2 separate regions of the Homo sapiens genome follow, and region 2 is linked to region 1. Evidence: fine-mapped expression QTL. A gene starts in region 1. The other region holds a variant in brackets. All regions are shown on one strand. Distances are from middle to middle.

Region 1 (16,139 bases):
ATTCCCAGGGCGGGGCCTCTACAATGGCTGCCCTAGGAGTGTCTGCCTTATGCAGATGCAGATAGGGATGAAACACACCCTAGTCTCCTGCAGCATGCCCAGGCTTGCTAGGATTAGGAAATTCCAGCCTGGCAAATTCCAGTCAGACCGGTTTTCTGCTCTTGAACCCTGAAAATGCATGCACAGTGGGACATGGAAGTTCATTAGTGATTCTAGTTTCACCCTGACCTTCTGCCTTGTGATCTTTTGTCACCCTTGAAGCATGTGATCTCTGTGACCCACACCCTATTCGTACACACCCTCCCTTTTGAAAATTGCTAATAAAAACTTGCTGGTTTTACGGCTCAGGGGGCATCACGGAACCTGCCAACATGTGATGTCTCCCCCGGACACCCAGCTTTAAAATTTCTCTCTTTTGTACTCTTTCCCTTTATTTCTCAGACCGGCCGACACTTATGGAAAATAGAAAAGGACCCTCGTTGAATTATCGGAGGCAGATTCCCCCAATACCCACCCTTATTTCATTTTGATACACATTTTCTTTCTTTTCTTCTTCTTTTTAATTTTTTTTCTGAGACAGAAGCTTGTTCTGTTGCCCAGGCTGGAGTGCAGCGGTGTGATCTCGGCTCACTGCAACCTCTGCCTCCTGGGTTCAAGAGATTCTCCTGCCTCAGCCTCCTGAGTAGCTGGGATTATAAGCACCCACCACCATACCTGGCTAATTTTTGTATTTTTAGTAGAGACAGGGTTTCACCATGTTGGCCAGGCTGGTCTTGAACTCCTGGCCTCAAGTGATCCGCCCACTTTGGCCTCCCAAAGTGCTGAGATTACAGGCATGAGCCACCGCACCTGGCTGATATATGTTTTCTAATAACCCAGTTTGTCTTTTCTTGCCTTCAGGCCGTGAAACTCCAAACGGTCATGCAACTGGAGCCTTGGACCACAGCCCCTTCTGCCAGGGACCCTTAGATAGGCCTCTGAGGGAGCTCTGACTGCCGTTTTCCTCAAACAGTGCCTCCTGTCAGCATGAAGCAGTTAAGATCGGCCTTTGTCCTGATCCTTATTCTTATTCTAACAGCAGTTAGATGTACTTCTTTAGAGGGGGAAATGATAGATGCAGGAGGCAGATAAGGGGGAAGGTCCCCAGAGAACCTCCCATGGGCCTGCACACTGGGAGAACAGGGTGGAGCCAGGGAAAGTTTGTGCCGTTTGCAGTGGGGAGGAGCCTGGCCTCTCCTTTCCTGTGTAGTGGCCTGGGATTCAATCTGTGAGTCCTGTTAGCAGGACTGCGTCTTGCTTTGCTGAGTTTTTTTTTTTTTTCCTTTTTTGCCCAATAATATCCTGCTCTACTCACCCTTCAGTGTGTCGTCTGTGTGCCTAAATTTTCCTGGTCTTGTGACAAGAACCAGAGTTTAGGGGAACTAAGGAGCAATGCTCTGCAACAGTATGTTGAGTTTTCACATTAATTTTTCTCAAAATATTTTCTAATTTCCCTTCTGAGTTCTTCTTTGACCCTTTGGTTACCGAGAACTGTGTTGTTTAATTTCCATTTACTTGTAAATTTCCCAAATTTCCTTCTGTTGTTGATTTCTGTTTTAATTCCATTGTGCTCAGAGAACATAATTTGTATGACTTCAATTCTTTTTTATTTATTTAGGCTTTTAAAAGTCCTACCATATAATCTATCCTAGAGGATATTTCATGTACAGTTGAACATGAGGTATGTTCTGTTATTGTTGGGTGGAATATTCTACAACTTTGTTAAATCTAGTTGGCTTATGGTATTGTTAATGTTTTATATATCCTTTTAGATTTACTTCATTATTTTATCCATTACTTAAAGTGGAGTACTGCAATAATCAATTACTACTATTACAATGTTCACTTCTCACTTCAATTCTGTTTTTGCTACATGTATTCTCGGGTTCTATTGTGGATGTATATATGTCTATAATTACTATCTCTTCCTCATAGTTTAAACTTGTTACAATTATAAAATGTCTCTGTTTGTCAGTAGTATTTTTGTTTTGTTTTAAGTTTGTTTTGTATTATATTAGTATAACTTCTTCAGTATTCTGTTGGTTATTGTTTCTGTGGTATACCTTTGTTCATCATTTTACCTTAAACCTATTTATACCTTAAAATTTACATTCATCTCTGTACACAATGTGCAGTTGGATCATATTTTTTAAAAGTCCATTCAGACAATCTCTGCTTTTTGATTGGAGTATTTAATACATTTTTACTGATCCATTGATTGATTGAGACAGAGTCTTGCTCTGTCACTCAGGCTGGAGTACTGTGGTGCAATGATAGTTCACTGTAGCCTAAAATTCCTGGGCTCAAGTGATCCTCCCATCTCAGCCTCCTAAATAGTTGAAACTACAAGTGTGAGCCACCGTGCCTGGCTAATATTTTAAAAAATTTTTCTAGAAATGGGGTCTCACTATGTTGCTTAGGCTGGACTTGAATGCATGACCTCAAACAGTTCTCCCACCTCAGCCTCCCAAAGTGCTGGGATTGCAGGCATGAACCACACACTCAGCCACATTTACATTTAATATAACTTGAGATAAAGTAGTACTGATGTCTGTCATTTGCTGTGTATTTTCTATATATCTTATATCCTGTGTGTTCCTCTATTACTCATTACTGTCTTCTTTTGTGGTAAATAGGCATTTTCTAGTATGCTATTTTAATTTCCTGGTTTTATTTAAATATGTATACATAAAGTCATTTTCTTAGTATTTGTTCTGGAGGTTACAGTTAGCTTCTCAATTTAAAACAATTGAGTTTTTAGAACTTAATTTCAATGACATACACAAACTGTGCTCCAGTTAAGCTCTCTTTACTCCCCCACTTCTTTGTGCTATTATTGTCATACAAATTCTATCTTTTTACATTATGAGCCCATCAACACAGACTTATGCTTACTTTTTATGCAGTTGTCTTTTAAATCAGTGAGAAGAAAGGCATTACACACTGACTTTAAATTTGCCTTAGTTGTTTTTCTTTGTATGAATTTGAGTTACTCTCTAATGACATTTTATTTCAGCCTAAAGGACTCCTTTAGTGCTTCTTAGTGGGTGGATCTGCTAGTAATGAATTCACTCAGTTTCTGTTTGTCTGAGGTAGTCTTAATTTCTCTTTCATTTTCAAGGACAGTTTTGCTGAATATAGAATTCTAGGTCTGCTCTTCCTTCCGTTCCTTTTATTACTTTGAATGTGTCATCTTACTGCCTTCTGGTCTCTATGGTTTCTGGTGAGAAAACAGTTGTTAATTTTATTGAGGATTCTTTGTACATGAGGAGTTGCTTGTTTCTTGCTGCTTTCAAGAGTCTCTCCATCTTTGGTTTTAGATAGTTTGATTATGATGTATCTCAGTATGCTTCTCTTTGAGTTCATTTTAGTTGACAGTTTGATTATGATGTATCTCAGTATGCTTCTCTTTGAGTTCATTTTAGTTGGAGTTTGTTGAAATTTTTGGATTATAGATTAATTTTTAAATCAAATTTGGAAAGGTTTTAGTGAATATTTTTTTCTGCACTTTTATCTCCCTCCTCTCCTTCTGGTACTCCCAATTGGTACTAGATATATCTTAGCATACTTGATGGCGTCTACTGATCTCTTAGGCTCTGTTCATCTTTCTTCATTGATTTTTCCTATATGTTCCTCAGACTAGGCAGTATCCATGGACTTATCCTCAATTTTGCTAATTCTTCTGCCACTCAATCCTGCTATTGTCCCCCTATAATGGATTTTTCATTTCAGTTATTATACCTTTCAATTACAGAGTTTCTTTATATATAGTTATATAATTCCTATATCTTTAACTACACTCTCTTTTTGGTGAGATATTGTTCTCATACTTTCCTTTAATTTTTGACACATGGTTTCCATCAGTTCTTTGAACACATTTATAATAGCTAATTTTAGGTCTTCGTCTAGTAAGTCTACAATTTATGCATTTTTAATGACAGTCTGTTGACTGCCTTCCAGCCTGTGTCCTTTTCTGCCTGTTTATGTGTCTTACAACTTTTTGCTAAAATATAGACACTAAAAATAATGTAATGTGGCAACTCTGAAAACCATGTTTCCCTTTCCCCCAGGGTTTGCTGTTGTTACTGTTTTTATTTCTTTGATGCCTTTCTTGGACTAATTTTGTAAAGTCTGTATTCTTTGTCATCTGTAGTCACTGATACGTCACTGTAGCCATTTGTAGTCCTTACTCAGTTAGCTTAATTGTTCACTAATGATGAGAGAAATGCTCTATCATTCCTCAAATGCTAGAATCAAAGATTTTTTTTTCCTTTGTTTATGGTGGGACTATGTGTGCATATTAATGCATGCCTTCAATTTTCAGGCAGACAATTCACAGCTTTGCCTCAGCCTTCACATCCTGCTTGCTCAAAGCCTCACAGTTAGCCAGAAGTAAAACCTGGGCATTCTCAGATTTCCAGAAATATGTTAATCTTTTTTTTTTTTCTGTTAGATGAGATCTTGCTATGTTGCCCATAGCATAGTTGAGATCTTGCTATGTTGTCCAGTGGCTATTCACAGGTGCAATCATAACACACTACAGCCTCAAACTCCTGGGCTCGAGTGATCCTTCCACCTCAGCCTCCTGAGTAGCTGGGACCATAGGCATGTGCCACCAGGCAGCTTATGTTAAATCTTTTTAATGCCCCCTCCCCATGGACATCTCATTCTTCATTTTTCTTTTTCAAGTTTTTCAGTCAGCCTATTGTTAGCTGTAACTGGTGTCACTACCTGAGGCTGCTGTAATATTAAACAATTGTTACTGATTGTTTTCAACAATGCCCTGTGGAGAGGACCATTTGCACAGGGCAAGCTCTGAGTTATGCCAATTAAAGACAAACCCTGGGAATGTAGCTTTTCCAGGAAGCTGCCAGACAAGTAAATAGTGCCAAGACTCTGGGGATGGGGCTCTTTCAGGTGCTCCACATCCTTTTTGTCCCTCCAGTGGCTGCTAGACTGCTCTTATGGTTGCAGGGCTGTTGGTTTTCAAGGTTACACATACTCTTTCTTCTTCTTCTTCTTTTTTTTTTTTTTTGAGACAGGGTCTCACTTTGTTGCCCAGGCTCACTGCAACCCCTGCCTCCTGGGTTCAAGTGATTCTTGTGCCTTAACCTCCTGAGTAGCTGGGATTACAAGCATGCACCACTATGCCAGGCTAATTTTTATATTTCAAGTAGAGACAGGGTTTCATCATGTTGGCCAGGCTGGTCTCAAACTCCTGACCTCAAGTGATCCTCCCGCCTCAGCCTCCCCAAATGCTGAGATTACAGGTGGAGCCACCGTGCTCAGCCTCAAGGTTACACATATTCTATGTAGTCGTCCCTCAGTATCCATGGGAGATTGGTTCCAGGACCTCTGGTGGATATGAAAATCCATGGATGCTCATGTCCCTTATATAAAATGGGGTAGTTTTTTTCATATAACCTATGCACATCCTCCTGTATACTTTCAATCATCTCTAGATTACTTATAATACTTAATACAATGTAAATGTTATGTAAATCATTGTTATACTCTATTGTTTAAGGAATAATGACAAGAAAAAAAAGTCCATACAAGTTCAGTACAGATGCGATTTTTTTTTCCAGACATTTTTGATCTGTGATTTGGTTGAATCCATGGATGTGGAAACCATAGATTTGGATAGCTGACTGTATCCCTACAAAAATATCCTGTTAAATGGCCTGAAGATAAATTCTCATGTAGGATGGTTCTAGTCCTAAAGATAACACTGTTCACCTCTTAATTATTGTATGTAGATAATCTGAATCAGCTTGCAGCAGGTCGAGCCACAGACAAAACTCCTTGACACTGAGTTAAAGAAGGAAGGGGTTTATTCAGTCGGCAGCACCGGCAAGACTCCTGTCTCAAGAGCCAAGCTCCCTGAGTGAGCAATTCCTGTCCCTTTTAAGGGCTCACAACTCTAAGGGGGTCCGTGTGAGAGGGTCATGATCAATCGAGCAAGTAGGGGTACATGACTGGGGGCTGCATGCACGGGTAATCAGAATGGAACAGGACAGGACAGGGATTTTTACAATGCTTTTCCATACAATATCTGGAATCTATAGATAACATAACTGGTTAGGTCAGGGGTCAATCTTTAACTAGCAGGCCTAGGGCGCGGCGCTGGGCTGTCTGCCTGTGGATTTCATTTCTGCCTTTCAGTTTTTACTTCTTCTTTCTTTGGAGGCAGAAATTGGGCATAAGACAATATGAGGGGTGGTCCCCTCCCTTAAGCTTACTTATTGTATATAGATCATTTAAGTCAGTATGTTCATCAGAATCCCTTGGAGGGCTTGTTAAAATACAGGTCACTTGGCCCCACTTCTAGAGTTTCTGATTCAGCAGATCTGGGATGGGGTCTGGGAATTTGCATTTCTAGCAAGTTCTGGGAGGATGTTGATGTGACTGGTTAGGGACCCCATGTTGAGAACTTCTGAAGGACTGAGATACTTTACCACCAGCATACTTAGCTATCACATCGTGATGCTTAGGGAAGATATAGCATGATATTGTAAACCAAAAGGTGTCTGAGACAGATCTGTCAATTTAGAGGTTTATTTTGCCAAGGTTGAGGATGCAACTGGGAAAATGAGGCACAAACTACAGTAGGATCAGTAGGATCTGTGGCCTATGCTTTTTCCCAAGAGGGTTTTGGGGACTTCAATACTTAAAGAGGAAAAAGTGGGCAGGAGGGGAAAGAAGAACAGTGAATTATGCATTTTTACATAAGGTAAGTAAACAGAGAGTAGAGGAAGAGGTCAAATATGCATTTGTCTTGGGGTGGGTGGAAGGATGATTCCTCCGCTTGTCTTTGTCCCATTCCTGTGACGATAAGCTGTTAATTTACATTGTCAGGGTGAGGGAGGCCACCTGGGGAGATATGTGGCCTTCTATCTTGCAGCTATCTCTTTAGGAACAAAAGGAAGGCAGTTTTTTTTGCATGATTCAGTTCCCAAGCTTAGCTTTTCCCTTTGGAGTAGTGAGTTTGGGGGTCCCGAGATTTTATTTTCCTTTTACAGTATTAACTAACACATGGCTCCCTTTTCTCTTGATAATTTTCATTCTACGGTGGAATTAGGGCCTCATTCTTTGCCACACTGAAAATGTGATTGATCTTTGAAGATTATCCAGAATTACATAACAGTCAAGTGACAGATGTTATTGGAAGCTGATCCTCATTCAGTGTTACTGTACTAAATGAATGAATACTGAAATTAGACTGATATCTATTTTTAAATCTTTATAAATTTAATTTTTTTTTCTTTTTTAAAAGTTAGTGTTTAACAACTTTCTTAGCTTGATTATGACTGCCAGGCGTGGTGGCTCACGCCTGTAATTCCAGCACCTTGGGAGGCCGAGGCGGGTGGATCACCTGAGGTCAGGAGTTCAAGACCAGCCTGACCAACATGGAGAAACCCTGTCTCTACTAAAAATACAAATTTAGCCAGGGTGGTGGCACATGCCTGTAATCCCAGCTACTTGGGAGGCTGAGGCAGGAGAATTGCTTGAACCTGGGAGGCAGAGGTTGCGGTGAGCCGAGATCGCGCCATTGCATTCCAGCCTAGGCAAAAAGAGCGAAACTCCATCCCAAAAATAAATAAATAAACAGCATGGCCATAAAATTTATTGTTTGAACAGGAATACATTTGAGAGTGAAAGAGGGCCCTATTAATAATTTTGCTGCAAAAAGATGTAAACTGGGGCTGTTCCAAGCAAACTAATTGGTCACAGTAATTAAAAAAAATGCAAAAATATTTTTGCATTTCTACAAATTTGATTTTCTTGGCTTTAACTTTGTACTGTGGAGTCAAGGTTCTGTCAATATTTCTTTCCATTTAGCTGGAGAAATAATAAGAGGGAACTGTTTTATTACTAAGTTACTTTTCAGAAGAGAAATAAAATAAAAAGTAAAGAAATAAAAATTTAAAACTAGGACATTTTCTTTTTCTTTTTTCTTTTCTTTTCTTTTCTTTTTTTTTTTTTTTTTTTTAGAGATACAGGGTGTTGCTCTGTCTCCCAGGCTGACACTGCAGCCTCAAATTCCTCTGCTCAATCGATGCTCCTGCCTCAGGCTCCCCAAAAAACTCGTTTTATATTTGTTTATTTTTATTCCAGACTATTGTCTGTATTTTGGTGACATGAGGAGGATCAGACATAATTCTAAATGAGTTCAGAGAATTCTTAATTTCCATTCCTAACTGGTTAATCTCTTTTGTTTTTGAAGCAAATTATATGTTTAAATGCTCTGCCTGAGAAGTATTCTGGTTTATTGAATTAAAATCATTTTAAGAATTTTTTTTTCGGATAAAATGTGAAGACTCAAAGATAAGGATACATTCAGTCCAGTATTTGCCCTTGCTCAAGGAGAAATGCTGTTTTAAAGTCAAAGTGAAAATTTTCTTCCAAAACTTCTGATTATTGTTTTTGTCTATGGAAAAATAGAAACTTGGGGCAAAGTGTAAGGACTGATGCTGTTGCAAGTCTGTTAGTGCACACTTATGCACACAGGCCAGAACAGGTCCGGAAGGACATACACTTAGAGGTTAGCAATTTTCTTTTTTTTGCAAGTCTGTATTTTCAAAGAATTAAGATTTTAATTTTTTGCTTGTCTGGTTGGAATGTTCAGTTTCCTAAACATCTCCTGGGGAGTGAGTACGTCTGCACTTCAGGAAGTGCTCTTGTCCGGAGGGCAAAAGGTTGGGGGCGCATCCCCGGGTCGCGGCTCCTCCAGGAAACTTTCCCTTGGGGATCCGTCAGGGCCTCAGATGCCTCAGTGGATGACAGGGTGAAGATGCCATCGCTCAGTCAAGTCCAGAAGTTCAAGAACTCCTTGCAGGTGAAGCAGTCACAGGATAGGGTGGGATCTTGTGGGAACCTAGCAGTAGGAATTGGCGCGAGCAGCTCGGTCACCGGCCCTACTGTCTCAGAGGGCGGACCCAGCTCGGGCTGGTAGTGGGGCGGGGGTCGCAGGGCGCGGGCCGGGCCCTCAGCGCGCATGCGCGACAAGGGGGCGGGGCCAGGGCGGGGCTGCGCCCGGCGTCTAGAGCGGCGGCGGCTGGCTAGGGCTGCGGCGCGCGTGGAGGGTTCGCTGCTGGTTTGCCGCCGGGTCGGGCTCCGTGGGCCGGGGCAGGAGGACCAGCACCTGAGGCCGGGCCCGCAGCCCGCGACTTCACAGCCAGGCGGCGGCGCTGCTGCTGCTGCGGGGCTCTGGCGCGCAGCCCGGCGGGACAGCGGGGCGGCTGGCGCCGGGGGCCGGGGAGCGCCAGGTAGGTGGGCCGGGCCGGGCAGGAGGCGACGCGGCCGCCGCGGGGGCCGGGGCCGGGGACGGACAGCGGGCGCGGGGGCGCGTCCAGGTCCCCGCTGGGGCGGATGTGGACGGCGCCCGCGGTTTTCATGGAAATTGCACTGCCTAACGGTGCCAGTGGTCCACCTGCGGTGGCGTCTTTTGAGAACAATCCGAGCCCGGCCGACCCCCAGCCCCGTGAAGACGCGGCCGCCCCAGCAGGGAGCCGGGTGCCGAGCGGGCGCGTGGCCGCGGGACGCAGACGCGGTGCCTGCCCGATGCGGCTCCAGGGCTGGGTCTACGGGCTCCTGAAGCTGGAGGCCTTGCCGTGTTTGGGGTGGAAACATAACCGGGTGAAAGTAAACATGCATCTCCGTGTGGGAAATCTGGTCTCCATCCTCGAAACTCTTCCATTTTCTGCCTGCCTTTAGACCCCGACAACATTTCTAGCATCTTTGCTTTCTATATTTTATTTCTCTCTGGCTTTGCTAGTCAATTAATTGAGGCCTGAGAAATGTGCAGGGATCTGTGGCTGTCTCTTGAAAAGCCAGCCAGGAATGGGTAGGCCCCAGAAGACAGACGTTCAAAATGTCAGAGGTAAATTTGTGTCTTTGTGGGCGAAGGAAGGGAATGTTGATGGTCTCGCTTCCCTTCCCCTGTCGCCTGCCCTCTGACATTACATAATGATGGGTTCTTCCTGCCCCGAGTTCATCCGTAATGACAGACCATGAAAATGTTCCTCTGGGTAAGAAAGACCTATATGTGGTAGAGCCCATCTTCTCTTTTGCTTTGCCACTGAATGTGTCTTGTGTTGGGAACCTGCCTAAGAGTGGAATTTGATTTGTCGCCTGCCCCTCAGGGCATTTAAACCAAGGGAATGGGGGTGGGGTGGCGATTTGGGTGTTGCAGAGAAATTCTGACTGGTCCATCTGTTCACAGTGGGTTGTGTGGACCATGGGGAAGCCAGTGGGGTTGAGGACAGAGTGGGTTGACTTCGGTGTGAATCATGGTTCTGCCGCTTGCTGACTCTGGTTCTTATCTCTAAAAGGTGAGAGCAGAGCCTTTTTTGCTGAGTTTGTTTTGGAATCTAGCTGCTGTTGGCGTTGGCCAGTGCACGTAGAATTGCTTGCTATAGGTTGTCCTAGAATTGAGCCTAATTTTTCTTTGGTTGAAAAACACACTTTCTTTAACGGAAATTTTGTTTTTGGATCTAGGCTAGGGCATTTGTTTTGGGGGTTCTTTGCTGAAGTGTCGACTGCTAATGTACTGTTTTCTTTGAAGAAAGATGAATGATGGGGCCCATGTAAGAAGGGCAGTGTGGTTGGTCTGTTGCAGGAGTGGTGCCAGGAGGCCGTGATGCTGTCTGTCCCAGGGGTGGCGTTGCATGTGAACGGGCCTCTCGGTGCCTCATTCCCTGTGATGTCTAGTAAACACGCCTGTGAAGCCAGAGCTGCTTGGTAGAGTTTGGCTTGAAGAAAAGGCTTAAAGAAATGGATGTGGACAAATTCAAAGAGAAAGAAACATTGTGTTTCTACTGAGCTCCTTATAGAATTAGTCTGCTTACCTGGCCACCTTACTCATCATGTAGCTACTTTTTTCATTTAGATTATTCTGTCTCAGGGTGTTTAATCTGCTTGGGTAAGTCTTGTTTCCCAACTAGATTCAGAACCAAGGGCAGATATTATAGTGCCTCCCTGTTTTCAAAACTGGATATTTTGTAGTATTGCTGTTAAACTGAATATTAGCGTTTTTTAAAAAAAAATCACTTTAAGGAAGGATGAAATAAAATAATACACGAGAGCTATTTGTAAACTGTAGAGCACTAGAAAAATGGGATGTGTATGACAGAGAACTATCAGCCCTGCAAGTCCCTTTAACCAGCTGCCTGCCTAAGAGGGAGCGTTCTCAGCCAACATCTCTTCAAATGCACACGGGAATGGACCTGAAGGCGGTGTGGGACCGACTGCCCCACTGATCCCCAGCCCAGGGCTTAACATCTCAAGAGTTCAGTGAGGCAGAGTGGAGGGGGAGGCTTTCCACCAAGACTGTTTCATCCTGTTTTCGTTTTTAAATGAAAAGCTCCTTTTCAGTTTAGTATTCCAGAAAAGTTGCCACAACATCATCAACTACTCATGGTGTCAGGAGGCTTTGACTTTCACTGAGAAAAAAATAGCACAAATCTGCAGCGAAAAAGGCTTGATTATGTTGGTGCTTCTGTAGAACTTGATTAATGAGCTGGTCTTGAGAGAGCCTTCGAAACGGCTTTTTTTTTCAGTGTCCTAAAACAGAAGTTCTGTGAGGAAAACATATTTTGAGGAGACCAATATTAACGCCCATGCAGGCTTGCTTCATTTTGTCTCTGTGTTTTTAAGGAAAATACCATCATGAAGCTAATCCCAGGGAATTTACCTATATTTCTATTCATATGCACATGTTATTCTCTAATTTTTTTTTTTTAGTATTTTGATATAGTTTCAGACTTACAGAAAAGTTGCAAGAATAAGCCAAAGGTTTCTCAGATTCTCCAAATGTGGACATTCTGTTACACTGCTTTATCATTCTCTTGTATTCCTGTGTGTTACTACTTTTTCCTGAACTGCTTAATAGTAAGTTGCAGGCTTGAGGCCCTTTTACCTCTAAATACTTCACTGTGTATTTCCCAAAAAACAAGGATATTCATAACAGCAGTAATCCCCGCACTTTGGGAGGCCGAGGCGGGCGGATCACAAGATCAGGAGATCGAGACCATCCTGGCTAACACGGTGAAACCCTATCTCTACTAAAAATACAAAAAATTAGCCGGGCTTAGTGGTGGGCGCCTGTAGTCCCAGCTGCTTGGGAGGCTGAGGCAGGAGAATGGCGTGAACCTGGGAGGCGGATCTTGCAGTGAGCAGAGATCGCACCACTGCACTCCAGCCTGGAGGACAGAGTGAGACTCTGTCTCAAAAAAAAAAAAAAAAAAAAAAATCATGGCCGGGCGCAGTGGCTCATGCCTATAATCCCAGCAATTTGGGAGGCTGAGGTGGGAGGATCACTTGAGTCCAGGAGTTTGAGACCAGCCTGGCCAACATGATGAAATACTGTCTCTACTAAAAATACAAAAATTAGCTGGGTATAGTGGCGTGTGCTCGTAGTCCGAGCTACTTGGGAGGCTAAGGCATGAGAATCTCTTGAACTCAGGAGGTGGAGGTTGCAGTGAGCCGAGATCACACCACTGCACTCTAGCCTAGGCAGCAGAGTGAGACTGTCTCAAAAAAAAAAAAAAAAAAAAATCATGAAATTAATGTTGATATAACACTATTTAGTGTACAGGTCGTATTTAGATTTTGTCAATTGCTTCGATAATGTCCTTTATAGCAAAAGAAAATCCTAGATCATCTGTTTTGCATTAAGTTTTTCTGTCTCTGTAGTGTCCTTTAATCTGAAAGTTACCACGTCTTTCTTTTGTATTTCACGACATAGACATATTTGAAGACTACTGACTTTTTAAGATAATGCCCTCAATTGGGTTTCCTGTGGTTTCATGATTAGATTCAGGTTATGCACTTCTGGCGGGAGTAGCACAAGGTTGAAGCAGTTGTAGTCTTCTTTTCTCTCTCTCTCTCTCTTTTTTTTTTTTTTTTTTTAAAGAGACAAGGTCTCCCTTCGTTGGAGTGCAGTGGTGCCATGGCAGCTCACTACAGCTTGGACCTACTCCACTCAGTGATCCTTCTGCTTTAGCCTCCTGAGTAGCTGGACTATAGGTGTGTGCCATTGCACCTGGCCAATTTTTAAATATTTTATAGGGGCTGGATCTCACACTGTGTTGCCCAGGCTGGTCTCAGACTCCTACTCTCGCCATCCTCCTGCGTTGGCCGACCACAGTGCTGAGTTTACAGGCGTGAGCCACTGTGCCCGAATAATGCTGCAGCCTTCTTAATGTATCCCATCAGGAGGCATATGCTGTGATTATCCCATTCTCTGGCCCTGCTAACTTTGATCACTTGAATTAAGGTGGTGTCTATCTCATGGAAAAGTTACCATTTTTCCCTTTGTAGTTAATCTGTGTCTTAAAGGAAGAGAATTTGAGACTATGTAAATATAGTTACTGCTCATACAATTAACTGACTAGTTTCAGAATTCATTGATGTTTCTTACCTGAGTCAATTATTATGATAGTAGGCAGATGATGATTTTCATGGTTCCTTCTATATTTATTAGTTGGAACTGTACTGAAAGGAAGAAACCTTCCTTTCTCTATTATTTACTTTTTGATTTACATCACTGGACTCATGAATTCTTGCTTTATTCAATAGATTATAGTCCATTACTCCCATTATGCATTTTGTTGCTCAAATTATCCTAGATTTGGCCAGTGGGAGTCCCTTCAGTCTGGCTTTTGTGTCCTTTTGACAAGTGCTCATCATTCTTTGAGGACTTTTCTTCCAGGCACAAAATCTTCAAGGACTCAGCTTATACTTTCCTTGTCCCAGCCCTGGAATCAGCCATTTCTCCAAAGAGTCCTGGTTTCCTTTAGTGGAGAGTGGTATAAAAACCGAGATGTAGGCACTATGTATTCTCGTTGCTACTGAGGTGTCACCCATTCTAGACCTTCTCAGGGGATAGATGCTCTCATTGTAAACATAAATGTAGTCACATTACACAAAATTTTCTGTGGCTTGCTTTTTAAATTTGTACTCCTTCCATTAGGCTTTGAAACTGTCTGTTTCCCTTTAACTTGGCCAACATTTAAGAGAATAAATCTTGTTAATTTTGCCAATCTAATGGGCAAGGAAGACATTATTGTTTTAATTGCATTTCCCAAATTACCAAAAATATTGGATACCTTTTCTTGTTAATGTATATTTTAACTTCTAATGAATTACCTGTTTATATCCTTTGTTCATTTTTTCTTGTTGGGCTGTTTTTCCTTATCTTACTAGATTGTGGAAGTTACGGTAACTTTGAATTTTATTCTTGGCAGCTTTAGAATGTTTTTTTAAGTGTGATGCTTTTTTAATTTTTTTTTAAAGTCCTAAATGACAAGGAACCCAAGCTTTTCTGAGTACCCCCTGCATGCCAGGCCTCCCTGGACATCCTGTGGGAGGTTCTGTCCAAAGGTGAGCTGTGGTGTTGAGGAGTGGTTAGAGCATCCCCCGAGGGTAGTTAAAAGAGGCTCAACTGGGACTAAAACCCAGTTATATCACCTAACTTCCTTCACAGGATTGAAAAATGAAAGCTTTTCAATGAGGGATAAAAATTGATTACCTGGATTTGCCAGTATCAACAATTTCTGTTTTCAGTATTTTGGTTTATAAATCAGGAATTTCTTTTACACAGTCCTTTTTGCTGAGCATACACATCTTTCGAAACCATTTATTTTATCCCTAGAACTATTGTGGACTCTGGTGCTGCACTTTCTGTGAGCATCCAGCTAGCTGTGTGACTTTGGGCAAGTGGCTTAATCTTTCTGTGCCTCAGTTATTTCATCCACAAAACTGGGCTGCTGGTAGTAGCAGCCCCAGAGGCTTGTTGGGGGATTAAATGAATTAACATTTAATCCTGGTGCCTAGTAAGTGTGCAGAACGGAAGCATTACAATGGATTCGTATACAGAGTGTGGGTGGTTGGCAGAGCTTGGAATTAGATCAGCCTTTCCTCTGTGGATTTAATCTCTTAGTTGTCTCTTTCTGTTTTTTTTGAGATGGAGTCTCACTCTGTCGCCTAGGCTAGAGTGCAGTGGCTCTAGCCTGCAACCTCGGCTCACTGCAACCTCCGCCCCCTGGGTTCAAGCAGTACTCCTGCCTCACCCTCCCTAGTAGCTGAGATTACAGGCATATACCACCATGCCTGGCTAATTTTGTATTTTTAGTAGAGACGGGGTTTCACCATGTTGGCCAGGCTGTTCTTGAACTCCTCACCTCAGGTGATCCACCCACCTCTGCCCCCCAAAGTGCTGGGATTACAGGCATGAGCCACTGCACCCGGCCTTAGCTGTCCCTTTCACCATAGCCTGTCTGGGATTGGAAAGCCAGGGTCCTGGGTGCAGTGTGCATGTCTCTTTCTGGTCTTTGCACATACCTTTGTCATGCCCTATCAGGCTGTCAGGCCCAGGCCTGCCAGCCAGCCAGCCCAGCTGGCCTCTGGTGTTTGCCCACAGCCCTAACCTGGAGCATGGGTGAGACTGCTGGCCTTTTAATATGAAACTTGTTCAGTGAGGCTCACCTGGCGAGGGACTTAGGCACAGTAAGCAGATGTATATGGTGGGGGCAGTGGGGGGATCATGCTCTGGTGAGGTCTATTTTCTGGAATAGGGTCAGGAAGACAGGGATGTCCTCTGATGTCCAGGAAGAAGGGTGGGGACCTCTGAAAGAGGAAAGTGTTTACCCGCTGCCAGCTCCGGTCCTGGGATCCTCCTAGAGCGCTTTCCCTGAGACACCTGGTAGTTTTCCTGACCTCCGGTTGCTGCAGCGCCCCTCTTTTTGCACCTCACTAGGTGGTATTCTGATGTCTCCTGAAAACCCCCTGCCCCTTTCCTGCCCCTCCCATAGCCCTCACGCAGGTGGTGTCAGCTGCTGTTATGGAAGCTGTCTATTATTAATTCACCCTAGCATATTGAACGCCCTTCTTTCCCTCTCTCATGTTGCTTGCATCTCTAAAGGGTGTATTCTCAAACCAATTAATTTGAATTTTCAAGAAGGATGACCTAAGTGTATAAACTCTGGAAATGTGAAGGAAGTATTTAGGCAGATGGTTGTTTCTGGGAAACAGGGCTCTACTAGGAAACAAGGATGCCCAGTTCAAGCTTCTCCCTGGATTATGGGGTGTGTCAGTTG
Region 2 (16,139 bases), 68 kb after region 1:
GGGGCATGCATCTCATTTTGTCTTGGAGTTGTGTTATCTGAATGTTTTACTCCATCATTAAACTGTTGGATTCTTGCAGGCAGAGATCACTTCTGATTCACTTGTGTGTTCACTGTAAGTGCCTAGCTCAGTACTTGTTGAACAGATGAATGGACAGTTCCAGATTACAGACTCCTTTGGACACTCTCATCAGAAGGCATTTCAGGTCATCAAACCAGGCTTGCGTGACAGGATGACAGAGACTCCTTCTCCTGCAGGCAGGGCTCCTGTCTTCTGCCCTGGTCCCTTCCCTATTAGCCTGATCTTTGCTGCTGGTTGAGAAGAGGTGCCACATGAGAAGAAGGCAGATGTTGCTGTTGAGCATGAAGGTGCTGCGTGTCAGTTGGCACTTGTCCCTACATGGTTGAACTTACTCAACCACAGCTCTGGTGGGTAGCTACAGAGCACTGCCCAAGGAAGGGCATGGGCCTCAGAGGCACAGCTTATTGCACTCTTTTAAAAACTGCATTTCTTTTTGAGGTTTCATTATTCCAGCCACTGTCAGCTTTGCAATAAAGAGCTGTGGTCAGTTCACTGTGGAAGAGGCCCATGGAGGACTGCCAGTGGGGGTCCTCCCTCACCAAACACGGAACGCTGAACAACCAGCAACACAGCCGAGTAGCTGAAGCCATAGAACCCTCTCTCCAGGAAGGTCCTATATAAACATCAGGACTGCTTGCTGCCCTTTTGATTTGTTTTAATGAGAATAGGGAAGACTGAAGTCCTTTTGTGTCTCTGCTAAGTGTTCACCCCAACACTGAATGTTTCAAACAGGATTCCATTTTCACAGCTAAAATAAACAGGTTATACACCACTTTGCCAGAGATCTACATGTAGTAAAGTTGCTGAATGTGTGACCACTTTGTGTTTCCATGGGACCTAGAGGACCAAGATGTCTCTCCCTGATTTCAGTTTGTTGTTGAGGAAGCTAGAAACAGCATTGTAACGTTGGTGCTGCCACTTGGAGGCCTTGGGCAGGTCATCCCCAGTCTCCTGGCTTACTGCCTGGTTTCTAAAATAGCATTGTCTTCCCGGCATTTCATTGATCTGTGATGGTTGCTTCACATTTATAGCCCTTTATGGAATTTTGTTGCTACTCAGAAAATTTTTTATTTTCTCGTGAAGCCAATTTTGACACTTGCGAATTAGAAGGCAGGCTTTCCTAGTGCTTAGAAAAATAAACAGAGCCTGCCTGACTCCACTTGTCTGAAGCACGTTATTATTAACTTTCAACTTATTATCAGTTCTGCTCTTAACGTGGCGCTGTAGAAGGAAATGATGTGTGTGGTGTTAATCTTCAGTGCCTCTTCAGGCCCACGTGCCATCCTGCTGAAGGTGCAGGACTGGCAATGGCAAGGGGGATCTACAGCTTTGGCTGGCCTTGACATTCTGCATCATGTGATTGAGCAAGCCTGAGACCATCTTACCAGATTCACTCTAGGCTCTCTGTCTTTTCTTTGTTTTCCCAAAGCTCTGTTAGCATGGACTTTTGAAAGTTGCCTGAATATTAAAGTACTATACTAATAACTTGCTTTCTAGTAAACAAAACCAAAAGTTGGCTTAATGGTTGCTCACTGACCTGGCATAAACTAGAACACAAAGCTTCCCATTTAGAAAAGGTTCAGGCAGCCTCCTGCTGGGATCTGCCCAACCCCTCTAGGAGGTGGCATGGATGCCCACCTCTTCTTCCAAGGGTGCACTTTGCCTTTAGGTTTGGGGAAAAGTACTGGGCGAGCCTTTGGGACTGTTGTGTCTCATGAGTGGGCTGACCTTGGTGGAGGCTTGCGTTTCCCATGTGGGGCCTGACTTTTTATGTGTCCAGCCAGAGTGATGAGCTCGTTCACTTTCCCTGCAGTGCTTCCTTGTTGAACCTGAAAGAGAGGACGTGGGAGCTTTTGTAGGAGAGAGAGGACACATGCTTTATTCTTGAACTGTGAGGTGTATGTCACCAGAGAGAATTGGAGACAGCGGTGACTGTTTCTCAAAACAGCTTGCACACTCTTCCCTTACCAAATTAGGATTGAGTAAAACCTGTTGGTAATAGTAAATAGAAGGAAGTTACAAATAAAACACAGTAGTCATAAAAGCAGAGCAGAGGAGCCCTGCTCACAGAGCCAGCCGTCACCACAGACGCCTGGGCTTGAGTTGTGTCTTGCTGATTCAGCAGGAGGGTGCATTTCCCCTTCCACTTTCCTGTTGAAATATATTATTTCTGTACAATATTTATAGAATCCCTGTCTCCACCATTAGAAATACAGAATATTCTTGCTTTTTCACTTTGCTATTAGTTGATATTGTTGGCTAGGTTTTGTCTGTTTATCCTGTTCACAAATTTTTGTTTTTTAAACTTTATTTTTTAACTATTTTTGACAGAAACAATAACAATATTTCTTCGAGGGGTTTAATTTCAGCTTAATTTAAGAAAAGAAAATCAAACATGAATGATACAAAAAAGAATCTGCTCTCATCCTAAAGTTCTGCCTTTTGCTTCTCTAGGAAGCCCTGTTTCCTGACTAGAATTTAGTGTTGCTTGATGGGAAAAGCTGGAGATGGAGTCAGAGACTGAGTAACCACAGGAGATGCTTATGAAGACATGGGTGGGGACAGGGCGGGACATAATGAGGAACTCTACAACTGAAAAAGATGATGCCTTTTATTAGCATTTGGTAGTAGTCGAATTAATGTGCTCTGCACTCTCTTCTGCATATCGGAAAGAGCACTGGACTAGTAAGGCCTGCCTTTAGGTCCTACTTCTGCTGCTGCTGCTGACCTTGAGGGAGCCCCTCTACCATTGTGAGCCTGGCTCCCAGGCATCAAACTAGAATAGCTGTCTCTCCCAGCCCAGCGGTGTGGTGTGAGGACCAGGCGAGTCAAAACATGTGGGCAGCATTTGCAAGCTGTGTTGTTGTTGCTCACACTTATATTTCTTCCCCCTTGAGATTTTTTACCTACAGAGACCTCTAGACAAGGTGTTTCCTCCCATGGAGACCAGATGAGGCAGGTGAGCGGGCAGAAGGCACCTTGGCCTGAGAAGTTCTTGGTCTCCTCCTCTCTTGACCCTCTTCTGTGGATTGGAAACATTGTGAGAAACTACGTCCCTTGCTTGCATTGGCAGCAGACACTGTTGAAGTCCTGGGAGAACACGATGCTGTGAACAGACCGAGGGGAGGAATGGTGGCTGCTCCTCACAAGAGGAAGGGGTCCTGGGCACATTTGGACTTTGCCTCCTGGAGTGGCCCACAATGCGGGCACTCCCCTGTGGCAGGGAGGGGGAGTCAAGGAAAGGAACTCAGCATTTTCAGGGCTGCATTTTCACACAGCAAGCCCTAAAGCTGCGTTTGTTTCCTGAAACAATCTTGATTTCATTCAGAGGAGGAAAACGACATTTTGGAGAGTCTGCGGTCTGGGGTGCTTTGATCCTCGTTCACAGTCCAGGGAGGTGTAGCCACATCCCCCTCCTCTGCCCTGCTTGGCAACTCACTTTTTTGTGGAATGGTGGCCGCTGGCCACTGCTGTTTTGACCAAATAGCTGGGTGGACCCTGAAGGGGCCATTCTGGCCATTTCTGGCCTCAGGCTGGGTGACGGTAGAGGATGTAGTGTCAAGGTTATGCGTGACTGATCCTTTCTGTAAAACAGCCCATCCCATCCCTCACATTAAAGGAATATAAACCCGAGTTCATTTGTGTTGGGGTTTGCTTGTGTTAATTTATAGATCACTTTTTTTCTAATTGTTTAAATGTTCTAAACAAAAGAGTTTATGACTAATTATGTGTTTATGTTGTGTGTCTGATACAATGTAAAGCCATCTAGTTAACATGAGAGTTATTTGACCATTCTGTTTAAAGTTTAAGAAACACGTGCTGTAGGGAAATCTCCATTTGGTTACTGAAAGTTGTGATGGATTGAAGGGGTGGTGGTGCTCCACTGCTTTGTGGGAGCTTTCTCCCACCCAAGCTCATGGGTAGTGTTGAAGCCCCCATGCTACAACGTGACCCCCACCCCCAGCCTGGGGGGCCTGGCTCAAGCTGGAGAGAACTGGGAGAGCACCCATGCAGGCGGCCTCTGGTGGCTGGAGCTGGAGAGTTTCAAGTTGGGGGCTGTCTCAGCTCCCACCATGTGGACTGGCTCATTTGCAGAGTGGGAGGATGATGGACATGGGTAAGCAGAGGGGAAGGGCCACATTTGCTGCCAGCCTTGGAGTCAATGGGCCAGCTCAGCCATGTTCCTGCTGAGGTGTTTAGCTCAGCCCAGACTCCTGAGACAAATACGCCTTTCTGCCTAAGCTCACCCCCCTGCACAGCGTCCTGGCTGCTCTATATAGTGTCTTAGCCAGGCTAGCAGGAGTTCCCATGACTGTCCTTACCATGATGGCATCGTCACTGCATCCCCTGGGTTGAGGGGGTGGGTGGTGAGGGCATGGGGTGAATGCAAAACACTGTACGGCAAGGCAAAGGACATTGCTGTGGCTGGGATGTGGGCCGCCCACTTTGCATTCTGTCCTGAGAAGCCATGAGCAGCTGCAGCCACACCTCTCCTGAAAGGGAAGAAGGAGAGAAGCAGAGCTCGGGTTAGAGGCTGTTCTAGTGGCTGGGGCAAGTCAGGGTCCAGCTTCCAGGTGGCCAGCTCTGGGCAAGGGAAGCAGGAGCAGGCACCAGGCCAGGCCTGACAGCTTTGTGTTTGGGTGGAAGAAGAAAAGGGAAGAGAAATCACCATCTTTGGCAATGAATAAGGCACACCCAGCCTGCTTTGGGGTTTAGAGCCTCCTGCACTCCCGCCTCCACCATAGAGGAGCCAGACTGGGTTCATGCTCCACAGTCTTCCAGCTGCGTCTCCTGGAATGAACCTTTGAGTAACAACTCTGAGTGAGTGATGATACCCCCCTTATTGTGGACCCACACTCAGAGATAAGCCCAACTCACAGGTCACGGGGAAGCCCGTGTCCTTATCTCTTCAGTTCCCGGCCCTCTTGGAGCAGCATGTCTCCTTTGATGAGGGGGTTGAAATACTGGATGCTTTCCTCGGTCCTTTCATACACTTATTCAGAAATTTATGTGACACGCTGGAAGGACTTCCTGGACAACAGACGGGCAAACTTTCAGTTAATTGTGTGAGGGCTTCAAGTGGTTTCAAGTGACAATGGAGTAAGAAATGAGACTTGTCAAAGTCCTTGCCTGTTGTAGGAGAGAGAACCGCGCTGCTCCTGGTGCACGCTGACTGCAGTCCTAACCACGCAGCTCTGACAGCAGACCGCCATGTACAGTGTTCCTGTTGTCTTTGTCTGTGGTATTGTGAAATTGATGTGGTAATCAAATGACGAATGAGGCCTGGTGCGCGGGAGTGAGAGGGGTCATGTATGGGAACACTGGGTTGATTCACCTCAAGAAAAAGCCCCAGAATCCCTGGCTGCAGAACCCAGGGGTGCCGCTGCCTGGAAAGGACAGAGTAGCAAGCCAGCCCCTCACCCAAGGGAAGGCTTCAGAAGAGGCTTGGCCCCCACCATTGTGGGCCTCAGGTTGTCTACCATTCATCTTTGTTACACTTTGTGATGTAGCTCTGGACCAAGCCTCTTATCATCTTTGTATCCCTAAGGCCTGCTCCATAATAGACCCTCAACTGTTTGTTAAAGCAGGAGTCCACAGTCCCCGGGCTGCAGACCAGTACTGGCCTGTGGCCTGTTAGGAACTGGGCTGCACAGCAGGAGGCGAGTGGCAGGCATTACTGCCTGAGCTCCACTTCTTGTCAATCAGCGGTGGCATTAGATTCTCGTAGGAGCACAAACCCTGTTGTGAACTGCGTATGTGAGGGATCTGGGTTGCGTGCTCCTTATGAGAATCTAACTAATGCCTGATGATCTGAGGTGGAACAGTTTCGTCGCGAAACCACTCCCCTTGACCAGCCCCCCAAAATTGTCTTCCACAAAACCAGTCCCTGGTGTCAATAAGGTTGGGGACTGCTGTGTTAAAGAGATTGCCAGTTTACAGAGAAGAAACAGCATGAGGTGCAGAAGCAAGAAATTGGAGGTGCTGAAGAAAGAGTGGCTGAAGTGTGTGGTGTGGAAGGCAGTCGGCAGATCCCCGCCCACCCCAGGCTGCTCCTGGCACCTCCCAGACATTGCGCTTGTGATTATTGACACATCTCACTCATCTCCCAGATTGTGAGCACCTGTTTTGCTCAGCACAAACATTTTAAAGCACTTTTTTCAGGGCAACTTATTTTCAAACTGCTTCTTACAGAAAATCCCCTGAACGTTCATGGTATATGGGTGAACCACAAGGAGCTGAGCTGCAGTTGTAAACTGGGCTGTCCCAAAGAACTCCAGGAGAAGCTGGGAACCAAGAAGGACATAAAAGAAGTGAGGGAATTGCCTGCCTTGTTATCTGAGGAAGGGCAGTCCCAGAGAGGGTGGCTGATGCAAAGGCCACACCAGATAAAAGTCTAAACAGCAAAGAGGCCAGGGCAGGAGCAGGATGAAGACACTGCTAGGAGGTTCACAGGCCCCGTCATTGCAGTTGGACACAGACTGTGAGGACTGTGGGAGGGACGCTGGTCAAATTCCCAGGGTATGGGAGTTGGGGTACTAAGGGAGTTGAAGTCGTACTTGTGGGGAAGATAGAGCTAATAGAGTTGTCAATGGATTGGATGTGGGATGTGAGAGGAGGAGGAGGCCAGGATGTTATTTCTTGCCTGGAGCAAGTGGAAGGACAGAACTCCATCTACTGAGATGGGAAACCTTGAGGGGCTGGTGAGGTGAAAGAGGAAGGCTGGAACGGTCTGGGCTTGTTCTGCTCCTGGAGCATCCTCCTCTGCCCTCTTGTTTACAGGGATATCCATGTCCCTATCCAAGGTATCTCAGTCAGTTCAGGCTGCTATAACAAAATAACTGAGACTGGTAAACAGCAGAAATGTACTTCTTAGACCTGTGGATGTTGGGAAGGCGCTGGCATTTAGGGTCTGCTGAGGGCCTTCTTGCCATGTCCTCACATGACAAAAGGTGAAGGGCAAAAAGGGCCTACCTAGTTCCCTCCAGCCCTTTCATACAGCACTAATCCCACCTATGAGGCCAGAGCCCTCAGGGTCTAATCACCTCCCAAAGGCCCCGCTTCTTAATACTATCACATTGATGGCTACATTTCAACATAAGGAATTCTGGGGGACACATTCAGACTGTAGCACAGTGACTGACTCCCTCCATTGGAGTCTGGGATGTGCATTTGTATTCTGGTTCAGGCCCTGTATTATAGTAGTAAGCATATTTATTAAACTAATGAGGCATGTCAGTTAAGTAAATGAAGTTAACTCATTGCCATTGCTGCCTGTCCATCATCACTGGCAGACAGTAGGGCTTGGGAAATGGAAAGCCAGAGATAAATGAACATCTCCCAGTGAGCACAAGCTCGGGGGCCCTAAGTCAGGTCATTTGTGTCTGCAGGTGAGAAGGGATACGCATTGCCAGCATGTTACTTCTCTTCCTGTGCTTGATTCAATTTTTTTTTTTTTGAGATGGAGTCTCGCTTTGTTGCCCAGGCTGGAGTGCAGTAGTGCGATCTGGGCTCACTGCAACCTCCACCTCCCGGGTTAAAGCGATTCTTCTGCCTCAGCCTCCCAAGTAGCTGGGACTACAGGCACGTGCCACCACGCCCAGCTAATTTTTTGTATTTTTAGTAGAAAGGGGTTTCACCACGTTGGCCAAGATGGTCTCGATCTCCTGACCTTGTGATCTGCCTGCCTTGGCCTCCCAAAGTGCTGGGATTACTGGGCCCCTGTGCTTGATTTTTCTAAAGCACATTACTTTCCTGTATTTAAGCCCTAGCAGCGTTGGATGGATGTTTTGCAGCATGCTTGGGTGTTAAGTGTCCTTTGAGTCAGAGCTTTACTCACAGTGACCCTCTCCTGCCCTGTGCAGGTATAGAGAGCTGGGAGGTGGGAGGTGGGAGAGGGCTGGGCCCCAGCTCTGAGGGGAGGAGGAAGCAGACCTCTTCAGTACAAGAGGACCATGATGCTGCCCCCTCAGAACATGGATGTCTATCCTGGAGGGACAGAGCACCCACCTCACTTCCCTGGGAGTCCAGGGTCCACTCACACTCCTCTGATTGGGAGACTCTGAATTCCTTCCAACAGTAGTCGTAACTTCATTTGACAGGCGAGGAAACTGATGCACAGAGATGGGACCCTGTGGAAGGTCACATGCTTCACAGCGGTTCACCAGGTCTGATGCCATTGCCTGGGCTCCCCTCCCCCATGCCACCAAGCCATATTGCTTCAAGGAACAGGCCTGTGCTCTCATGTTCCTTTTCAATAGCAACCTTTGGGCCTAATTTTTGGTGATTATAAACTGTAGCGCAAGCAAAGTACCGTGGACCTTGGTGAAAAGTTCCGGTTGGAGGAACTGGAGAAGGTAGGAAAGTTGGGTAAAACTCACATAGACTTAGCTGTAGAGAAAGGGCTTCCAGGCTCACAGATGGCTCCAGTACAAGCGCTGTGGGGGCCAGCCTCAGGGGAGGTTAGGAAAAGCCAAGGTGAGAACCTCACATGCCAAGGTGACAACCTCACAGGGCTGACAGCCCATGTACTGAGCTCTATGCGGATGTTTTCTGTGTTTCTTCACATATGTGCTTGCTCCTCAGTGTGTCCTGGTGAGACCAGTGTTATTTCCGTTATACAGAAACTGAGGCTGAGAGAAGCTCAGCAGCTCTTTCACCTATGGGGGAGGAGGGATCTGAAGTGGGATTAGCTGAGCAAGTGGGTGGATTCCTGAGGCCCCACTCTGGGCCTCACAGGTTGATCCAAGGGTTTAGTCTGCGGAAGGGCAGGTGTTGACACCTGTCTTAATCCATTTTCTGCTACTCCAACAACATACCACAGCCTGGGTAGTTTGTAAAGAAAAGCAACTTATTTCTTACAGTCTGGAGGCTGGGAAGTCCTGGAGCATGGTGCCCGCATCTGGTGAGGGTCTTCCCATGGTGGAAGAGTGGAAGGTGGAAGCCAGCATGAGAGACAGAGAGGAAATCGGGCTAAACTCCCGATTTATCGGGAATCCACTCCCCTCACTCCTACAGAAACAGCATTAATCCATTCATGAGGACAGAGTCCTCGTGTCCTAATCACCTCTTAAGTGCCCCGCCTCCCACTACTGTTAGAATGACAATTAAGTTTTCAACACAGGAACTTTGGAGAACACGTTCAAACTGTATCAAGAGCCTTTTGTGGACCAGGGTGCTGGGGGCCTGGTGGGCTTGGAGCCAGAGCCCCGAGAGGCATGAGGAAGGCCTTCCTGAGACCCCTCCCAGGTCCCCTCCACCTTGTCCGTGTTCCTGCAGCATGTGGCCTTTCCATCCTAGTTAATACCTGGGCCTTTGAGGCAGCATTTTTTGTTTTTGTATTTTATGCTAGAGAAGCATATTTGACTTTGTTTAAAAGGTTAAGATCTTTCCTAAGCAGATGGCTTTTGTTTGAAAGAAAAAAAAATGGAAGGCCTGCTTGCTTCCACTATTCCCTTGCACCGTAGGATGGGGAAGGACACCCAGGGTTGGAGTAGTCTCCAAAGTGGGCAAATTAGAATCAAGGACCCCAACTGCTGTATCGTAGGCCCAACTCCTCCTGCATCGCCTCCCAGAATCAGTCCTTCTGCTTTTATGACCCATGCCAACCCCACAACCCCTTCCCACTTGACATCAGATGGCAGTTTTCTCCAGTGTTCAACATCCTCTTCTTCCTGGGCGGCCCCCTCAAGTTGGCCATATTTAAGGAAGAATGAGTTTTGGTGTGTTCTCATCTCATGGTCACACGCTCTTCTTCTCATACCTGTTTTATCATTTGCTTTGCATTAAAAGTTGATTCATAGCACTTAACTTTCTCATTGGTTATGTAGAGACATTCATTCACTCACTCACTCACTCACTCACTTACTCACTCATTCCAAATATAAACCAGAGGAAGTTTCTGCTGCCATTGGCTATTGCTCTGGAATACTTGGAAGCAGGCCTTCCTGGTCTTTGCTGTATGCAGCACGTACCTTGGCTGGTGACAGACCTGAGCGGATGCTTGGGAGCAGAATGTGAGCTGTTGTGGCAAGCCTGCACACAGGCCAGTGCTGCCTTGTCTTTGGAGTGGAGCCTCCAGTTTGCTGGTCACCTTGGGCTTGGCCATTCTGGAGTTACTGCTCCTGTTCTCTCTGTTGGCCTTGCCTTGTCCCTGCTGCCCCTCCCTGTCACCGCAGCCATTCTGGCTCTGGCCCATTCAGTTTATGGCATCAGTGGCTGCATTTTACTTACCCTGTGCCCATCCCCATGTTTGTGCCATGTCATAGAAAGTCCTCCTAGGTGCCCGTTGTTCTCTTATTTGCTGGGCTTCAAGAATTGGTGGCCCTGAAGCCCCCAAGGGTCCCAGGACCCCTGTTAGGTGTAGACAAGGTCTGAGTAGATCCCTGGGTAGATTCAGTTTCCATCTGGCCCTAGGGGACCCATGGAAA[C/T]GGAGGCTGGTCTGGAACACTGTGGTAGAGAGTGGGTCACATTTTCTTTCTAGGTTGGATTAACAGCTCTAGTAGAGCCACTTCAGTGAACCCGTCGTCTTTACGTTAAAGTCATCTCACACCATGGAGTCTCCAGAGTGGTGAGGTCCAAGCCTAGCCTAGGGAATATTGGGAGTAGGGGAGGCTCAGGGGATGTGTTCAGGGTGTTCTGAGCCCCACCTGGAGTTAGAGAGGGGGTGTGGTATTGTGAAATATATACTTGGTCTACCTCCCTCTTTTCCTGAGGTATTCTTAGAATCTCTGGAGCGGTAAGAGTATCTTTGTATGCTAATGAGAGAATCTCTGGAGCGGTAAGAGTATATCTTTGTATGCTAATGAGATGACTGGTGGCTGGGGGCTCTTAAATTTAGGATTTGGCTGGTTGCCAGGGTAACCAATCCCATGATTAGAGGGCTGGAATTTACAGTCTTCCACCCTCCCACCTCTGGGGAGGGGAGAGAGGCTGAAGGTTGAGCTGGTAAATCAATGGCCAGTGATTTAGTTAATTATGTCTATAATGAAGCTTTCATTAAAGACCCAAAAGGAGGCCAGGTGTTATGGCTCACACCTGTAATCCCACCACTTTGGGAGGTCAAGGTGGGAGGATTGCTTGAAGTCAGGAGTTTGAGACCAGCCTGGGCAACATAGTGAGACCTCATCTCTAATTTTAAAAAATTAGTAATTATCCAGATGTGGTGGCACACACGTGTGGTCCCAGCTACTCAGGAGGCTGAGATGGGTGGATGGCTTGAGCCCAGGAGTTTGAGGCTACAATAAGCCTGATGTCATTGCACTCCAGCCTAGGAGACAGAACAAGACCCTGTCTCTAAAAGCTGGAAAAAAAAAAAAGTACAAAACCCCAAAACTCCAAAGGACTGAGTTCTGGGAGCTTTTGGATAGCTGAGCATGCAGAGGTTCCCGGAGAGTGGCACATAGGGCGGGCAGGGCAGCTCCACGCCCTTCCCACATGCCTTGCTCTGTGCACCTCTTCCAGCTGGAGGTTCATCCGCATCCTTTGCAGTATCCTTCCTGTCTGTCTGCAGGAAGGTGATATTTGTCTTTCTGAGGTTATTATTAATAGTAACTTTCAGTGCCAGTGAATGGTGTGACACCTCACTGATCTATGATTTTAGCTGTCTTGGATTTGGGGTTTCTGAGAGTAAGTCCTTTCCTCTTTCTGCCCCTCTAAAGTAGCCTCTTTCTTAGAGGCTGCTGACTCATGCTCAGCTTCATGCCAGCCTTTCATTTTACTTTCTCTCTTGTGCTGCCTGTGTTTGGAGAGCAGAGGCACAGTGAAGCTTCTCAGCCCATTTGCTGCCACAGTGACAGCAATAGGCTGTGGTGGGGTAGGACGGGGGTGGGGTAGGACGGGATCCGGTGGGTGGGGCAGGGAGAGGGGCCCCCATTGCACTTGGGCTTTTTCTTTGGGTTGATAACGATAGTTCATATTTCATCTCCATGTGACCTTGAAAAAAATCACTCTGAGCATCCGTGACCTCATCCGTGCAACTCCTTTTAAAAATTATTCTTAGAAGAACCCCAGTGAATAAGCAAAAGTGGAGCTCTGATGTGTTAATCCTCACCCCTCAACTCCAGCTCCGGGGAGCCTGAGAGGTTCCTGAGGTGGAGGGACCTGCAGTACTCCCGCTAGGCCTCTGGCAAACGTTTCCCAGGACTGCTGCTGAAGGCCTTGCCACCTCACTAGTCCTGTGTGAATCCTAACACCCCTCCCGTCCTGCCAGTGCCCTCTCCACCACCCCTTTCCCTGCCCCCCATGGCTGGAAGGGACATCATGGGAAGTGGGATAGAACCTCAGGGTTTACTGTCCACTTGATGGCCTGCCGCCTCTTGTCGGAGGGGTCACATGAGTGCGCAGAGTGAGGAATGGGAGCTGCTCACTTCATGGGTTATTGCTTCTTTTTTCTTGACCCCAAGAAAAAATTCCAGCCCCCTAGACAGCTCCCACACATTCTGTCTCCTCTTCTGCTTAAGTGCAGTTTTTCCTCCTAATGAACTCTGGTCTTCAAATGGAGCTGGGAGGAAAAACAAGGACCTTGGGAATATACGAATCCTTGGTGAATTACCTTATATTAATGAGACCAAGAAGAGAAATCGAGTTCAGCTGTGCAAATTAGCTTTGCGTTCTGGGCCTTGATGACTTAAATTGCAGATTCTAATTAAATGTCCCCAAATAACTATGAAGTGCTTCTAAGGTCTTTTTGACCTAAAAGTTTCCGTGACCTGTGAACTCTCTCAAGTGTAAAATTAGTCTGTAGATGTACCCCTTTAAGCATTTCTATCTCCAGAAACCTCATGATGCCTAGGATATAAACCACCCTCCTAAGGGCAGAGCAGGCTGGTGGAGTGGGCAGGGACCCTGCAGGGAGAGGTGGAAAGGGGTAGGCATGGGTGAGTTTCGGAGCTTCCCCAGGGCTGGCAGGATGTTGGGGTACAGATGTGTCCCTCTGTTAGGTGGCCTGTCTCCACTGTCATAAGTGAAGGGGGTGACCGACACCTTCACTAACAGGCTGAGCAGGGCAGCAAGGCAGGCAATGGAATGCTTTAGACACACTGGGAAAAGGTTCAAAAGGGAAGAGCCTCTTCTTCAAGCTGAAGTCATGCCTGGGGTGCTGCCCTGCCTCTGGCCAGCATGGGGTGCAAATCTTCAGTGACACAAGAGTATGGCTGTTAGAGAAGGAGGAAGACAGTTCCCCATGATCACACCCCCAGCATGGCTGTCATCTTGATGCAGCCGCCTGCTGGCTGTCCCCTCTGTACAGTACCTCTTTAAATGGCTGCAAACAGAGCAAAGGTGGGCTATTTCTTTAAAAACACATGATGCAGAACTCACGTAAGTTTTTTTTTTAATGCTATGTTGTCTTGTATACACTTTGTATTGGGGTATAAAAATCACCTGTGTACAGCTCAGTGAATTTCACACAGTAAAGTCTGTGTGTAACCCGCACCCAGATCATTTCCAGAGCCCCGGAAGCCCTCTCACCCTCCCCAGTCAGTACCCACCCCTTCAGGATACCACTCTCCATACTCTGGATGCCACAGATTCGTTTGGCCTGTGCTTGAACTTCGTATGAATGGATTTGCCTAGAATGGTCTTAACTTTTCCCCTTGACGTTGTTTCTGAGACTCATCCCATTGTTTCATCTGTTCTACTGTTGACGAACATTTAGGTTGTCTCAGGTATCTTGCTACTGTGAATGTTGCTGTTCTAAACCTTCTCTACAGGCTTTTGGTGAGCATAAGTGTGCGTTTCTGTTAGCAGCTCCCCCTCTGAGTTGTATGCCAGGTCACAGGGTAGGTGCATGTTCAACTTAAGTAGAGACGGCCAGTTTTCCAGCGCGGGTGACTATTTACGCTCTACCAGTAGTATCACTTCCAGTTACTCCACGTCCTCATCAACACTTGGTACTGTTGGTCTTTTGTCATTTTTGCTATTCCAGTGCTTGTGCAGAGGTATCTCATGGGTTCAGTTTGCATTTCCCTGATGACTAATGGGGTTGAAGAACTTCTCCTGTGTCTGTTGGCTTTATTATGATCATTTTGATAGCCAGATAATAGTGTGTCTTATGGATGTTCCAGAACATTCTTTTCTTACCTATAGCTGGGCATTTGGATTGCTTTATTATTATAAGTAATGCTGCAATAAGCATTTTTACCCAGTAGTCTTTTCCATGTTCTATACTATTGGCAAGAGTTTTGTTATCATTTACAAATTTTGATAATTAATGCCAGATGGCTTTCTGAATGTTTGAACTACTCTAAGATGGAGTAACAATATAGGAGAGTCCTAGACAGCTTCCCCCAGGTCCTCCAGCAATGTGTATTCTCATTGAAGAACAAACAAAACTCTTTTGGAGGACGAATTTAGGTGAAGGAAAGCATATTTAGCATTGCGTTACTTAATGAGTTTGGTCACTTTTTCAAAATGTTTACCATGTGTGTTCCTCATTTATAAATTCCTACCTTTTGCCACTTGCATTTTGGTGAGTTTTTTGTTAATGTGTACAACCATTACTGTAAAAAGCAGATATTAGTACTGTAAGCACTTTCCTGTTTTACCAGTCACATTGCACATTGCTTCACTTGTGTGCCTTTTGACGTTAACCAGCAAATCTTCCCCTTGGTGATTTTTATTGTGGCTCCCCCACCAGGCCACTGCCGTGTCTGCAGAGATGCCCAGACTGAAGGTCCCTGGGCACCCCTAGTGGGAGGGATAGGAGCATAGCCTGTGAGAGAAACTGAGTCAGCCCTGGGCTAAGCACTCTGCTCTTGCGGTCATCTGATTCCCCGACCCTGGTGCTTTGAGAGGGATGGCTCATGAGCTGAGCCCTGCCCTGTGGCCTGCCAAACAGCCCCTGTGGTGCTGGGACTGAGTGGGGCCTGGGGGCCCAGCAGCAGCAGCATTGTGGGAACTCAGTGGAGTTTGCAGAGCCCTCTCCTGTTCACGCACATTTGGTTTTCATTGCAGCCCCATGAGATGGGTGCAGCCCATCCATCCTGAAGGGCAGGGCCTTAAGAGGGCCCTGCAGCTTCTCCCAGGGCCTACAGTTTGTGAGTGGGGAAACTGGTCTCACATTCTCATCCCCCTAAACCACACCCAGCTGCTCACCTGGCTCTTTAGGACAGGCCCAGACTCCCCCAGCAGATCAGCCCTGCAGGGGAGAGGAATATGTGCTTTCTCTTTCTCATTTATTTTGGGTTTGAGCAAAACTTGTATTTTTGAGCCAGAAGGTTGGATTGGGGTGTGGAGCTCAAACAAACATGGAGTAGCTCTTGGCCTCCACGTTTCTAGGCATTGCAGTCTCTCAGAAACTTCATGTTTGACCAGCTTGTTAAGTTTTCGCTTTCTTATTTTTAGATGATGGATTTGGACATGCTTCTATGAAGAAATGCCACATGGTCCGAGAGCAAACATGTCCAGTAAGTTGTTTGGTGAATTAACCCAAGGACAGGAGCCCAGGTCCTTCAGGCACAGGGTGTGGACACCCTTTGAGAAGATCAGGGCTGTCTCTGGAAATATGAAGACCTCTGAGAGAGTGTTTTAAACTAGGCTTATTGCTCAGTCTAATTATCTTAACTTGTAAAGGTTGGTTCTTTCTAGAGACAGCAGGAGTTGTAGCATATAGGGTTGGAAAAACCTGAAACACCTTCTCGCTGCTTAATCTAGTTCTGAGAGCAGAGTGTGAGCTCTGGAGCTCTGAGCCATGTGAAGCGTGTGACTCAGCCTGTGGCAGTGTTTTACCCAGAGCCCTCCCTTTCCATAGCACAGCACCCTCCACTTCGCTTAGGCCCAGATTACATGCTTTGCGGGAAGGAAAGCCTGAGACCCAGACACACGTGAAGTTTATGCAGCTCTGGGAAGAAAGCCAGCAGGTTAGAGTTGTGAGCTTTGTCTCACTAGTGTTTTGCCACCTGTATGTAGCCCGTGGACAGCAGACTCTTCTGCAGCTCTTACCCTTCTCACAGAGGTTGTGGTGAATTGATTTAAATATTTAAAGGTTCTAAGAGACTTGCCAACAGAAGAGCATAATAAAGAGAACAAGAAAATCTCGAAAGCCATATTTTATAATTATA

What was found. PIP is the estimated chance that this variant, and not a neighbour inherited with it, causes the effect.
Region 2: its variant is fine-mapped to the expression of INPP4A in whole blood (TOPMed, PIP above 0.99).

Annotation. Positions count from the first base shown.
Region 1 is chr2:98,435,778-98,451,916 of GRCh38, forward strand. INPP4A (inositol polyphosphate-4-phosphatase type I A) reads left to right here and starts at 9,081. Exons shown (of 25, transcript NM_001134225.2): 1 at 9,081-9,308. RefSeq lists enhancers at 1-791, 1-577, 578-1,321, 2,984-3,033 and a silencer at 8,911-9,550.
Region 2 is chr2:98,503,541-98,519,679 of GRCh38, forward strand. It overlaps INPP4A (inositol polyphosphate-4-phosphatase type I A), which reads left to right. Exons shown (of 25, transcript NM_001134225.2): 2 at 15,424-15,485. Among named protein-coding and RNA genes, the nearest start is that of INPP4A, 67 kb to the left of the region's middle. RefSeq lists enhancers at 4,262-4,321, 4,782-4,841, 16,083-16,139. The variant C/T (reference allele first, on the strand shown) is at 10,509.